2 linked regions of the Homo sapiens genome follow. The protein of the gene in region 1 interacts with the protein of each later gene in a pairwise test. Each region holds a gene or a part of one and is shown on either strand. Other genes may lie near its edges.

What was found. The genes of interacting proteins can lie anywhere in the genome.
Region 2: the proteins of IRF4 (region 1) and GIPC2 interact in binary tests that used the Homo sapiens proteins (3 or more experiments, as listed by UniProt).

The regions. Positions count from the first base shown.
Region 1 is NC_000006.12:387,251-394,848, forward strand, and holds the start of IRF4 (interferon regulatory factor 4), read left to right. Parts: upstream 1-4,501; 5' UTR 4,502-4,559; intron 4,560-5,847; 5' UTR 5,848-5,902; coding exon 5,903-6,118; intron 6,119-7,570; coding exon 7,571-7,598. UniProt on the Homo sapiens protein: Transcriptional activator. Binds to the interferon-stimulated response element (ISRE) of the MHC class I promoter. Binds the immunoglobulin lambda light chain enhancer, together with PU.1.
Region 2 is NC_000001.11:78,118,966-78,125,965, reverse strand, and holds part of GIPC2 (PDZ domain-containing protein GIPC2), read right to left. Parts: intron 6,574-7,000; coding exon 6,467-6,573; intron 86-6,466; coding exon 4-85; intron 1-3.

The sequences.
Region 1 (7,598 bases):
GACGGTATGCTGTTTCACAAAATTTCGCTGAAAGAGCCGTTGATGAACTTTAGAATAACCCAACATTAGGCGCTGTTACAAATGGGTGGAATTAGACAAAGCCGTTTGCCTTTCACCTCTTGCTTCAGTTTTCAGAAAATTGCCCAAAGGTATTGCAAACCATTTGCGTTTTCATTGGCTTGGTTAAGGAGTTGGCAGTGTCAACTGGCCCTGTGTAAAGCCACGTCACTGTTTCTGTAGAGAGCATGACACGTCAGAGAGGTGGGAAGTGTTGCCAGGACTCTTCTTAGAATGCTGGCAAGAAGAGCAGGCGAAAAGGGAAGAGCTGTTTATAAACAGGGAAAGGAGACATCACCTCGTATCCTTGGCTTCTCATTACGTCATCGATTACAATCACAAGTCTCATTTCCTACAAGCCTGAAAGCGGGTTCTTCTCTGCATGTAGGAAAAAGCCCCGCTTACTAACTCTGCCCTCAAAGAGATCACAAGCTGGTCCTGAACGCCCTGTGCCCTGGGAATGCTTACTGTCGAAGCTCTGCAAATTTTCTCATTGAAGGCACTCAGGGCATTCTGCTAATTAAATTAGGAAAATGTGTACAGCTCTACTTGAAAAAATCCAGGTTTATGCTCTGTATTCTATTACCAAAGAATTTATCACTTTTCAAATAACATTCAATTATTTTAAACTGAGTGTGCAGTGAGAGCATTTATAATATAATCTCATTTCCAGAGTGTTCCATCCCAACTCCTCTCTGGTATAAGTAGCTTAGAAGGTTAGATTTTTTTTTTCCAGAGGATTAAACATTCGAGAAGAGTGGCTAAGAGGCAGCACCAGGTTTCTCTCATTTCCTCAAAGAGAATTTAGCCTTGTGAAGAAGAATAAAGTGAAGGTCAATGGTTAGATCCATGGCTTAAAAATAAAATGCAGCTTTCCTTACTCTGAATTTACCATAACCAAAAAGGCCACGAGGCAGCCATTAATGATCCTAAGTTGCAACAGAAAGAAAAAAACACCTACTTAGGGTTAAACGAGGATTCAGTGGTCACTTGCCGCCGGCCTCCACTTCACAGGGGCGGAGGATGAGGCCAGGGAAGACTTTCTTACCCACACTGACCTGACCAGAGATGAAACTCCCCCTCCTATGACAGCCTGCACTCAGAGGCTGATTCTGAAATAGTCATGCCAAATGCAGCCAATCCCTGTGTACAAGGAGAAAAAATAGTTCCTCAGAGCTGTGTCCTTGGGCCAGCCATCTGGACCTCTCACAATCTCTTTCGTTCTCCCTACACTTGGGCTGAATCCCGCCTTCCTTGCCTGCCAGGTTTGGTTTGGGGGCCAAATGAGTGAAAGTCCGTGAGATACCCCTAAGTATTGAAGTGCGTAGTAAATGATAATAGCCCTGATTTGTTGAACATGATGATGTGCCAGGCATTGCGCAAAGCATCATTTCATCATCACAACAAACACTGCTGGGAGGCAGGGACACCCCCACCCTCCTTGTACACCCAGAAGTAGGACTTTGGTTAAATGGCTCTCCCAAGGCCTCACAGCCTTAAAAACTCAAGCACTTATTTAATCCCCAATGATACTACCTTTTGGCCATGCAATGTGTCATGGCCAGTAATTAGATTTGCAAACACATATAACCAAAGAGGATTAGAAGAGACATATATTCTATATAAATTACATGAAAATAGCACTTTCAGTATTTTCCTGATTTTTTCTGGTAATTAAAAATGATTGCCCTTTATATTTCTTTATGGATACAGTTGCATTGTTTTTAGCCAATTGTAGCCCCCCCCTTTAAAGAGTGAATTAGTGGGAAAATAGTGTTATCCAAGATTTTAAGAATCTAGTGTGTGTGTTTGTGTGTGTAGGATGGGTTTTTCTGAAATATTTTACTTGCATGTGAATGTATAATTTTAAAGATTGGCTTTTAAAATACTGAATTGAGGTAAATTCAGCTTTTCTTGCAGACTCTTTACGATAAATGTGAAATTGAAAATGGAAATGCTCCATTCAGATGGTGTGCCGACTACAACCTCAACATACGGATAATTCACTAAATAAGTAACTTCCTCGTGGAATATCACGGTCAGCCTTTGTTTTGGGTACACATTCAATGAACTGGTTTCCTATTAGTTTCTGCTTGTCAACAAGTTGTGTCATTTACTGATAAATATCCAGCCTTTTACTAAGGAATACCGATTTTCTCAAGTCTCAGTGTGTGGAGGGGGTGGGAGTTTGGTGGGGAAGCTTTTCAATTTGAGAACCTTTGCCGTTTTTTGTTTCAATCGTGACTAAGATATAAAAGTCCTTGGTCACCACTGCCAGCTGCTACCTGTTCACTGCCTCCCTGACGGGTAATGAGGCCATCCGGAGTTTTAGTGATTAAAATGTTTTATTACTTGTATTCACATCATCATTAAGAAAAATAACTTCTAGTGGATCAATATGGCAAATGAGTAAACCAGAAGATGGCGTTGAAGATTAGCAATTACATTTAAAAACAAGGTAGTGGTGTGAAGGCTCAGAGTTTCACACAACGACTGTTGTTCTGAACTAAAAGCAGAGGATGTGGATGAGTGAGGGGAGGGTATGTTGAAAATGACTAAACCCGGTGCAGAGGACACGTATACGAAAGTGCAAAAAGCTCTCATTTGCCATTTTTTGTCCTCAGCAAACTCCTCTCTGGTATGTTTGTGAACGTTTGAGGGAAAGGTAACACTGATTAAAATATAATGCAACAAGAAGGCAACGATCTTTGCTTTGTTCACTGATGTGTTCCAAGTGCCTAGGACGGTTCCTGACAAGTAGCAGGTGCTCAAAATACATTTGTCAAGTGAATAAATCTGTGAAAGGAAAGGAAGAAAAACAGGTTGTGACCAGAACTTTTTGTGAACAAAACCCTGTTGTTTATTACATAGACTTTGGTAATGGAAAACTTACTTGGGTGAAATAAAAAATGGCATCCTGTTAATTTCTGAGAACGTCTGTTGGTTTTAGGAAAAGCATACCTATCCATACCTCACTACCTGTTTTGCTCTAGCCTAAACATAGATTCTTCTTTGGTTAGGAGACATTGACCCAATATATAAGATTAAAACAAAAACTGAGAAATAAGTGAAATCAAAAGCTTTTCAAAAGTTGCAGGTTGACCTACGGTGGTGGTGGTCTAAAATCATATAGAAACCAGAGATCTGATGGTTTACCTGAAAATGCGAAGTAAATGCACATACTCAGCATCTCAGACGATCGAAAGCTCAACGGGTGAAAGCTCAGGGGGTTAATTTTGCGATTAAGGACATCTTGGAAAAGTATGTAAAATCCCTGGTCCACTTAAGTATTATTCCTATTTTGGGCTTTTATTTATTTATTTTGAGATGGAGTCTTGCTCTGTCGCCCACCTCGGCTCACTGCAACTTCAGCCTCCCGGGTTCAAGCGATTCTCGTGGCTCGTCCTCTCAAGTAGCTGGGGCCACGCCCGGCTAATTTTTGTATTTTTAGTAGAGATGGGGTTTCACCGTGTTGGCCAGGCTGGTCTCGAACTCCTGACCTCAGGCGATCCACCGCCTCGGCCTCCCAAAGTGCTGGGATTACAGGCTTGAGCCACAGCGCCTGGCCTATTTTGGGCTTTTATACCCCACTGGTAAACTGCTTTCCTCCAGGTTGAGGTTAAAACGACATCATTTTAAGGTGAACTGAAGTCTGGAAGTGATTAAGCACTTGGATCCTTAGGGAGCCTCTCCCCGCCCCCATCTCTTTCATGCTAAGATAATTAAAACTTCGGGGCCGGGGCATTGTCTGAGTCACTTCAATTCACCAGCCTAATAGATGCAAAAGGATGTAAGCATGTCAGACACGCAGAGACAGTATTTGAATCAAGCTTAATAGCTCAAGGGAGCTGGGCCATTTCCTATTTTCTTTTTAGTGAGTGCGATGTTCTCTAAACACCGCGGAGAGGCAGGGTTCCCGGTGATGGCCTTGCCGAGGGTGCTCCCGCAACCTCCACCTCCAGTTCTCTTTGGACCATTCCTCCGTCTTCCGTTACACGCTCTGCAAAGCGAAGTCCCCTTCGCACCAGATTCCCGCTACTACACGCCCCCCATTTCCCGCCCTGGCCACATCGCTGCAGTTTAGTGATTGACTGGCCTCCTGAGGTCCTGGCGCAAAGGCGAGATTCGCATTTCGCACCTCGCCCTTCGCGGGAAACGGCCCCAGTGACAGTCCCCGAAGCGGCGCGCGCCCGGCTGGAGGTGCGCTCTCCGGGCGCGGCGCGCGGAGGGTCGCCAAGGGCGCGGGAACCCCACCCCGGCCGCGGCAGCCCCCAGCCTTCACGCCGGCCCTGAGGCTCGCCCGCCCGGCCGGCCCCGGCTCTCGGCTTGCAAAGTCCCTCTCCCCAGTCCAACCCCCGGCCCCCACAGGCCTCGGCGCCCCGCCCCGCCCCAGGCCCCGCCCCAGAGAGTTCTATAAAGTTCCTCTTTCCCACCTCGCACTCTCAGTTTCACCGCTCGATCTTGGGACCCACCGCTGCCCTCAGCTCCGAGTCCAGGGCGAGGTAAGGGCTGGAGTCGGGCAGGAGGAGGGGTGTGAGGCTGATACCAGAGAGGACCCGGAGCGCGAACCAGAGGTTCGACCTCCAGGGCAGCGCAGGGTACCCCGGCTTCGGAGCGGGAAGGGAGCGCGCCCCGTCCTGGAGCTCCGACTCCCACCCCATCTGCGCTGAGCCGGAGGCGCTGGTTTGGGCTCCAAGGCCCGCCTCCTTGGCTCTGCCCGAGCCTCCCCGCCTGCCCTCCGCGCTCCTGCGACGGGGTCGCCACAAGCTGGACGGGATGAGCTAACCGGACTGTCGGGGCCCCAGGAGTGGCTGAGGCGGGGCCGTCCAAGGCACCCACACAAGACGGCACAACTGCCTGCGAGAAACAGGCCCGGCCCTGTGGACCCCAATCCGAGGCTCCTTCCCCTGCTCTTCGTTCCTAAGGGGCCCAAGCTCACGGCGGCCTCCGGCGCGGTGCTCACCCGCTGGCGCAGGAGGAGGAGGAGCTCCACATTTGGGTCGCTCCGAGCCTTGCGTGCGGTGGCCTAGCCGGCCTGGCGCGGTCCCTGCCTCCCAGGCTCCGCAGCTGTCGTCGCCCTCTCCCGCGCCCTCCCCGCCTCCGCTCTCCCGGGCCTGCTCCGGGGTCCGGCGGACGCTCTGCGCGCGGAATCCCCCGTACTGGGGCTGCAGCCCCCGCGTCTGCGCCACTTGTCGTTTGCAGAGCCCACTTAGTGCGCGCTAGCTGGGCAGGGATAGGGGTCCTATTCGGGGCGAAGGGTCTGGATGCGAGCAGAGAAAGCGGAGGGTGGAGGAACCCGGGGCTGCGCCCCTGGAACGCCCGGCCGCAGGCGAGGTCCTCCGCGCGTGGAGGCCGCCAGGGGAGTGGAAACTGACAGAGTCGCGGGGAAGGGGCGAGAAGCGGGTTGGGAGTGAGCGAAGGCAAGCGAGAGCTGCGAGTGAGTGCGGAAGGAGGGCCAGGAGGGGTGGCGGCTGGGTGGGGAGAGAGGGTGCAAGACGAGCGGCGCGTGTCGGGAGCCTTTGGGCTGCGGGTGCGTTACAGGAGAGCAGGCGGGTAGGAGCCTTCGCGGGGGCCGAGCTCGGAAGGCGGACGGCTGTGCCCGCCCAGGGGATGCGCCCGGGCCGGCCGCGAAGGTGCCTTCTTCCGGGGGCCCGGACGACCCTGACACGGCACGCGCGCGCTTCGCAGCCTCAAAGACTCCGGGGCCTCGTGGTCACTGGCGCAGGGGATCGGGGCGGGGTGCCCGGAGTGCGGTGCCTCGTGGCTGAAGGGCAGCTCTTCTCCCCGCAGTGCAGAGCAGAGCGGGCGGAGGACCCCGGGCGCGGGCGCGGACGGCACGCGGGGCATGAACCTGGAGGGCGGCGGCCGAGGCGGAGAGTTCGGCATGAGCGCGGTGAGCTGCGGCAACGGGAAGCTCCGCCAGTGGCTGATCGACCAGATCGACAGCGGCAAGTACCCCGGGCTGGTGTGGGAGAACGAGGAGAAGAGCATCTTCCGCATCCCCTGGAAGCACGCGGGCAAGCAGGACTACAACCGCGAGGAGGACGCCGCGCTCTTCAAGGTCTCCGGCCTCGGGAGCCGGCGGGGGCGCGCCGGGGAGGGCCCAGAGACAGAGCCCGGGGTCCCCGGCGCCGCCTCCGAGGCGAGCCCAGGGGACCGCGCGGGGCGGACGGGCGGGCGGCGGAGGCATCAGGTGGCGTCGCCGGAGCCGCAGGAGGAGGAAAGGAGGCCTCGGCTCTCAGCGGGACCGCGGGGGCCGGGAGCCGGGTCCTGGGCGCGTGGAGGCTGCAGGGAAACCGCTGAAGGCCCGGCCGGGCCCGGGGAAGGGCGGCCAAAGGCTTGAGGGGTTTTGCGCGTTCGTCCGTGCGTTCTCGTTTCCACGCAAGCCTCCCGCCCTTCCTCCGGGCTCCCGTCTGCCGCCTCCGTCCGTGGGTCCCCCTCGCCCTCTCCGTGCGTCCGCGCCTGTGCCGGCGGCTGTTTTCGTCTCTCACCGCGTCTCTGTTTCTCTTTTCGCTGCTTTTCTCTCTGAGTCTCTCTCTCTCCATGTTTTTCCTGAGGTCAGCCTCTCTTCTCGCTCCTGCTAGCTCTCTGCGGGTACTCCCACCTCTGTCTTTCTCTTTGTGTGTCTCTGTCTCTCTCTTTCCCCCATCGCAGTGGAACTCAGGGCCTCTGTCTAGAGCTGTCTCCCTTGCCCTTTGCGCGAGTGCACACACGTGTGTCGTTGTTACGATTGTTCTCCCCTAAGGCAGTTTACCCAGAGAACTACGTGTCTGGGCCCAGCCCCCACCTGTGGGCAGAGCAGGGGAAGGGGACTTCCTCCGGGAATTTGGTCTCAATTTGCTCTCAGAGTGCCTCAGCTGTGCTGCCATCCAGATGTCTCCTGTGGGTGACAGCTCACACCACAGCTGTCCTTAGTCCTAGGCAAGCTCACTCAGACACTGGGTGGGTAGAGCCCCCTCAAGGAACCTCCGCATCTCACTCTACCGGTTATAAATACCCAGAAAATGTGTCTTCAACTTGGCAGTGATAGGGTCCAAGATGGAAAATCATTTTCCTAGAGCATAGCTGGGGTCTTTCAGTTTACGTTCTGAGCAACGGTGTAAATCTGAAGGACCTATGCGCCATTCTTTCTTTTAGAAATACAATTTCAAGATTCCTTATAAAATATCTGTATTTTGGGTTTAGCATGGTGGCTCACACCTGTAATCCCAGCACTTTGGGAAGATGAGGTGGAAGGATGCCTATGCAACATAGTGAGACCCTGCCTCTGCAAAAAATAATAATTAAAAAAATTAGCCAGGCATGGTGGTGAACACCTGTAGGCCGAGGGCCCAGCTACTCTAGAGGCTGAGATAGGAGGACCCTAGAACTCAGGAGTTCGATGCTGCGGTGAGCTATCATCGTGCCACTGTACTCTAGCCTGGGCAGCAGAGCAGGACTCTGATTCCAAAAAGAAAGCTAATAAACCAGACATGTATTTTGACTTTTCGTTCTCTTCATTCTTTCCCACCAGGCTTGGGCACTGTTTAAAGGAAAGTTCC
Region 2 (7,000 bases), on another chromosome or scaffold:
TACCTAAATCAATATCTCGAATTCCCATGTACAACTCAAGAACATCATCAATCTTTTCAATTGCCTTTGCTTTGGTTTCAGAAGGCTTTATCAAAAAAGAGAGAAATAAGATATTATACAACAAAATCTCTTGATTGTCAGGGCATACACAAGAGAAAGCCTGATGTGGAGCCGGTTCATAATTGTGTATTTCAGCTAATTTTAATGGAAATAGATCTAGAATGTGCTCTGTAACTAAATACAAATCAATACAGTAAATACTTATTTCTAGTGTCAGCACTAAGTGTTACGGATTCAAAAAAGAAAAGCCAGGAACACAATCCCCAAGTAGCTAACAATCTAGAAGAGGAAACAGATGTGAAAATAAATAACATGTAACAGTTTTTAAAGGATATAAAAGGCACAGAAGCATCACAGGGGAGGAAGCAAATTTATATCTCTAACAGTCATGGAAGACTTTAGAAAGAAGGTGACTTGGCTGAGCACAGTGGCTCACACCTGTAATCCCAGCACTTTGGAAGGCCACGGTGGGAGAGTTGCTTCAGCCTAGGAGTTCAAGACCAGCCCAGGCAACATGGTGAGACTCCATCTCTACAAAAAAAATTAATTAATTAATTAAAATAATTAGCTGGGTGTGGTAGCACATGCTTGTAATCCCAGACACTTGGGAGGCTGAAACAGGAGGATCACTTGAACCTGAGAGGTCTAGACAAGCCTGGGCAACATGGCAAGATTCTATCTCTACTAATTAATTAATTTAATTTAAAAGTAACCAGGTGTGGTGGTATGCACCTTTAGTCCCAGCCACTCAGGAGGCTAAAGTGGGAAGATCACTTGAGCCCAGGATGACGAGGCTGTAGTGAGCCATAATTCTGCCACTGCCCTCCAACCCGGCAACAGGACAAGACCCTGTCTCAGAGAAAAAGAAGGATGTCTTAAGAACTGTGGCGGGGTTTTTTTGTCTTGCTTTGTTTTGTTTTGTTTTGTTTGAGACAGAGTCTCATTCTGTTGCCCAGGCTGAAGTGCAGTGGTGTGATCTCAGCTCACTGCAACCTCTGCCTCCCAAGTAGCTGGGATTACAGGCGTGCGCCACCATGCCCAGCTAATTTTTTGTATTTTTTTAGTAGAGACGGGGTTTCACCATGTTGGCCAGGCTGGTCTCCAATTCCTGGACTCAAGTGATCCGCCCACCTCAGCCTCCTAAAGTGCTGGAATTACAGGCATGAGCCATCACGCCCAGCCAAGAACTGTGTTTTCAATGATGAAGAGGAGATAAGCAGGAGAGGACACTTCAAGTAGGATGCAATAGATAGGCAAAGTCTAAGTAAGGTCACAGAGTCATGTTAGAGGGATGCCAGAAGTCCCATGTAGCTGGAGAACACAGTGACAAATATGACTAGATCTTGAGGAGTCCTGTGTACCATGAAAAGGACTTTGGTCTTTATGGTGCAGGCCAGGGTCTCCAAACGTTTGATGGCTCATCCCAATAGTAAAACTTTTCTGAACAAATACCCTTATTGTGTATTTTTAACTTTATTGTATGTATTGCTTATCAATTACACATGTATTACCATATTAATATATTGTATAGATTATAAAAATACACCAAAAAAGGAAATTTTATAAGAATGAGATGATAAAATAATACTTTTTAAATCATTTTTGTGTTATGTATTAATGGTACCAAAACATTTTTGTTCTTCCCGAAATGATTACTAAACATTTCAGTAAAAATATTATTTTAAATTTTTGGTTTAATATTTGGTAAATTCTGCTCAGTTTATTTCAATACTTGGCTTTAAATGGCATCATAGCTGAAAATGGAATTGCCCAAAGATGTTAACTACTCAACTATACATGCAAATGTAGAATTCATTATTTAGATTATAAGAATTTCATGTTACTTTCAATACTGTTATAAATATATGTTGTTTTGTAGTCTCAAATTTTATTAAAATCATGCATTTTATAGCAAATAAAAATCTATTTCCTTGAAGATATTAATACAACTTTCTCACATTTTTATTTACAAGAACTAAACCTTAAAAACAATAACAGACAATATATTGCTCTTGCCTTCATTACAATGTATCTTGAATTGTCTGTATAAAGCAACAGGCTATGCAAATTAACAGGTATTAACCTTTATATCTATCCAGGCACGTTTTAAGTTACGGTGACAAGTGTCAGTACTCCTCATACCCAAATGGCCACCAATATTTTACCATTCTAATATTTCCTATTTGCTACGGAACAGATCTGGATCTATCACCTCTTCTCCATCCACATTCTGTTTGCCAGTGTTTAGTCCTCATCTTTTCTGATTTGCAGAGGTTTCCTATTTTGTCTCCCTGCCTTTGGTCTTCACCCTCTCAAATCCAAGCTGCTCAACAACCCATACCCTGGAACCAAGGGATTTTTCTAAAACACAAAACTGATTGTGTTACTCCCCTCATAATTCTTAAATGGCTCCCTCATTATCCACAAGGCCCTTCATATCCTAACCCCAGCCTATGCCTCTAGCCTCATCACCCCTACCTAACCAGTACTTCCAGCACCCCACACTCCAATCTCATGAACAGCTTACAGGTCCCCAAAACCCATTATTGTTCCATGCCTAGAACACTCTTCTTCCCCATTTTGAACTCACTCACTAATTTCTTCCGGAGAGAAACACTTCCTGACCCTTTTTTTTTTTTTTTTTTTGAGATGGAGTCTCACTCTGTCACCCAGGCTGGAGTGCAATGGCATAATCTCGGCTCGCTGCAACCTCCGCCTCCTGGGCTCAAGTGATTCTCCTGCCTCAGCCTCCCAAGTAGCTGGGATTACAGGTGCCCAGCACCATGCCCAGCTAATTTTTATGTTTTTAGTAGAGATGGGGTTTCATCACATTGGCCAGGCTAGTCTCGAACTCCTGACCTCAGGTAACCCACCCACATCAGTCTTCCAAAGTTCTGGGATTACAGGCGTGAGCTACTGCACCCAGCCTTCTGACCTCCTTTCTTTCCCCAATCCCTGTCAATGGCTGATCAGCCCCTTCTTTGTGACACTGTGTATCCTGCACCTGCTTCCATTAACCCTATCCCACTGGGTTGTAATAGCTTCTTTTCATGCTTCTCTCCTTTTAGAAGAGAAACAGGGTTTTTATTCTTCTTTGTATCACCAGCACTTAGACTGTGCCTGTCTCAGCAAGCACATATTGAATAAAGTATGAGGTTATGCAAGTGGAGAATTGATATGGTTTGGCTCTGTGTGCCCACCCAAATCCCATCTTGAATTGCAATCCCCACGTGTCAAGGGAGGGACCTGGTGGGAGGTGATTGCATCATGAGGTGGTTTCCCCCAGGCTGTTCTCGTGATAGTGAGGGAGTTCTCACAAGATCTCATGGTTTCAAAAGCGACAGTTTCTCCTGCACACTCACTCTCTCCTGCCACCATGTAAGACGTGCCTTGCTTCCCCTTCACCTTCTGCCATGACTGTAAGTTTCTTGAGGTCTCCCAGCCATGCGGAAATGTGAGTCAATTAAACCTCTTTACTTTATAAATTACCCAGTCTCAGGTATTCTTTACAGCAGTGTGAAAACGGACTAATACAGAGAATCTTACACCATTTTCAGAATTTGTGCTAGGTGATTAAAGGAGTGATTTGTTTTAAATCCCATAAGTCCTTTAAATTCTTAAAGTGTTTGAAATTAGATTTTATGTCATTTGTATCAAATTTAATATTAGCACCAAACAGCTTTTTCCTTTCATTATGAGCTATTTTTAATTGCCCTATTTTACTAAACAGACTATGAAAATAGGAATAGATTTTTAGATGTTTATCTTTGAATGAATCTTTCCTACCTCCCCAGGTAGATCTTAAGCTGCTCCTTTTCCATTCAGGCACCTTTGCCACAGCAGGTGCTTAACAAAGAGTGACGAATGATTTAACCCTTAGAAGATGCTCCTCCTCCTGAAGGGACGTGGCATTTTTCCTGCTGACCTGCTTCCTTTGTGAGCTGTTTAAAGGTCTGCTCATTTTTCCTCACAGCCTCCAGCAAAAGGCAGAGCTGACATTCTCCTGGCTCCTCACAGCCAGCAACTTCCCTCTGTTCTTCCCTTCTCTGATAAATTCCTTTCTTCCACTGAGATTTGCTTATTCATTCAATAAACACTTACTGGCCTTCAGCAATATACCAGGCAGTGTGCTGGGCCACAGAGGGAAAATAAAGGCTCCAAATGCCCAGAAGTCACTGCCCTGGGTTTCCTTCACATACCTCATCATATCTCCTTTTCAAAACACTTTTTGCTCTATCAGATCTCTTCGTTGCCATTTGCCTCTGATCGGTCCTTTCATTCTCCCAGAACCCACGCATTTGACTCAGGATCTTCCTCTAGATCCCCCCAAAACTGACAACACCGTGGGTGCCTCGACATTCCTAAGGACAGCCTTGGCCTCATGTGTTCCTTAAGTGTCTACTTCAACAAACCACCCCCATGACCAACCCTGGACCTTGTCACCCAACAAGTTCTGAGATCCCACTCTGTGAAACAGCCTCAAAACTGTTCATCTGTCTGTTTTTCCCTTCAAACACATAGGAACCCAGACAGCATTCACATACAGAGAGACCCTAGAAGGGCCCAGAGCCTTGCCCCTGCCCCCCCGAGCTCACAGGCATCAGTCACCTGCTCGACATCCCATCTGCCCACGGGAGGGCTTTGACCCCCATGCCTTTGCTGCTGTTGTGGGCCTGCTGCTTGCCACTTGGAATCCTTACCATCGCCACCCCAAACTTGCAGTTTTCTTCCTCCACCCTTCTTGCCTCTAGTTGTCACTTCTCCTTCTGGTGTTTTTCACTCAAACACTGACCTATATATAGACAAAGTCATTCAAAGGGAAAAATCCTTGCTTTTCTCAAACTAAAAGGAATCGTTTACTAATTCATTAATGCACCAAAGATTTCCATTCCTTTGGTATATCAGGTCCTATTCTAGGTGCTGGGGATGCAGCAGTGAACAAGACATGTGAGCAAAGGAGCTAGACAGTAGACAAAATTAATCAAAGATATAGAGTCCTAGTGTGTTTAGTGCTGATATGGTTTGGCTGTGTCCCCACCCAAATCTCATCTTGAATTGTAGCTCCCATAATCCCCACATGTTGTGGGAGGGACCCGGTGGGAGGTAACTGAATCATGGCGGCAGGTTTTTCCCATGCCGTTGTTCTCATGATAGTGAATAAGTCTCACAAGATCTGACGGTTTTATAAAGAGCAGTTCCCCTGTACATGCTTTCTTGCCTACTGCCATGTAAGACGTGCCTTTGCTCCTCATTCACCTTCCACCATGATTGTGAGGCCTCCCCAGACATGTGGAACTGTGAGTCCGTTAAACCTCTTTTTCTTTATAAATTACCCAGTCTCAAGTATGTCTTTATTAGCAGTGTGAAAACAGACTAATACAATTGCTTTGACAAAAATTAAGGACATGGAAGAGTGGGCAGTGGGAGGGGTGGAGGGAGTTGCTGTTTATACAGGATGCTCGGGAAAGGCCTTTGAGATAGATAATGTGTGGGCAGAAACCTAATGATGGCAAGGGAGCAAGCTATGCAGATAAATGGGCAAAACATTCAGGCAGAGACAACAGCAGTACTGAGAGCCTGAGATGGGGATACACCTGGAGTGTTTGGGAACAGCAAGGAGATCAGCATGACTGAAGCAGAGGAAGCCACGGCAAAGGGATGGGAAATGAGAACAGAGAAGAAATACGGAGTTCGGTCATGTTGGTCATTCTGAGGACTTTAGGTTTTATTCTGAGTGTCATGGGAAGCCACTGGAGGGTTGTGAACAGAAAAGTGACATAATTTCTCTTGCATATTTTAAGGATCATTCTGAGGGTTGTGCTGAGCACAGGTGGAAAGAAGGCAAGGGTGAACACAGGTGGACTAAACAGAAGGTGATTGCAAAATCCAGGATAAGATGATGGTGCCTTGGGGCACAGTGGTGGGCAGGGGTGGTAAGAAGTCATTGGACTCCAGTATCTTATAGAGGTAGATCCACTAGGATCTGCTGATGGAAGCGACATGGGACATGAACGAAAAGAGTCAAAGATGACTACAGGTGTTTTATGTGAGAAGAGGAGTTTACGAATATAATCTTTCATTATCAATATCTTCTTTTGTTTACTCCTACAGGTGGCTCTGAAACATTTTCTTGGTTCTCAGAGAGCTTTGGTTGACTTAAGTTTTTGAGAGAGTCCAGCTGTCTATAGAGTCTAGAAACGTCACCTACAGGTAACTGAGAATTTCTATAGATCACAATCTCTTCTCATGTCCTTAATTTCTATATTTCCTTTTTAAATACCTTCAGTAATTTCCAGATTGTTTAAATAGACAGTGAATTAAAAGTCCAAGTTTTGGTTAGAATGAATGGAATTTTATCTAACTCAACATTTCCAAGCAGAACAGGAAGTAAATGAACATAACATACCATTTCTTCCACGGTGGCAGGACCTTTTGATCTCAGGCGAAGTGTTGCCCTTCCACAACCAATTTTTTCTCCTGATGACTTTCCAGCCTTTGACCTCAGCTCTATTTCTACAATACAATGAACAGGGAAACATACATATACACAGAAAGCATCCCAACAGATTACTGTGAAGGCTAATGTAGTTTCTATCACAAAACTATATACAATTGTTATAGAAATTTGATAAAACGTAGGCCTTCTTATAGAATTTCCCGAAGCAAAATAAATGTACTTGTCATCCATTATTCTTATAAGAGAGTCTTTATGAGAGAGTTCTAACTCCAAGAAAAGGGAATATGTGAAATGTACAGATGGGAAAGACAAAGTTACAAGGAAGAAAAAACAGTAGGCTCTACAAAAAGAGTAAAGAGGAGTAAGTGGTTTCATCAAAGTCACAAAAAAAGGGAAAGAATCATGTCTTGAAAGAAGAGAGGTTTCTTCTCCCAATGGACCAATAGAAAAAGAAGAAACAAAAAAAAAATTTAAAGGAAAAAA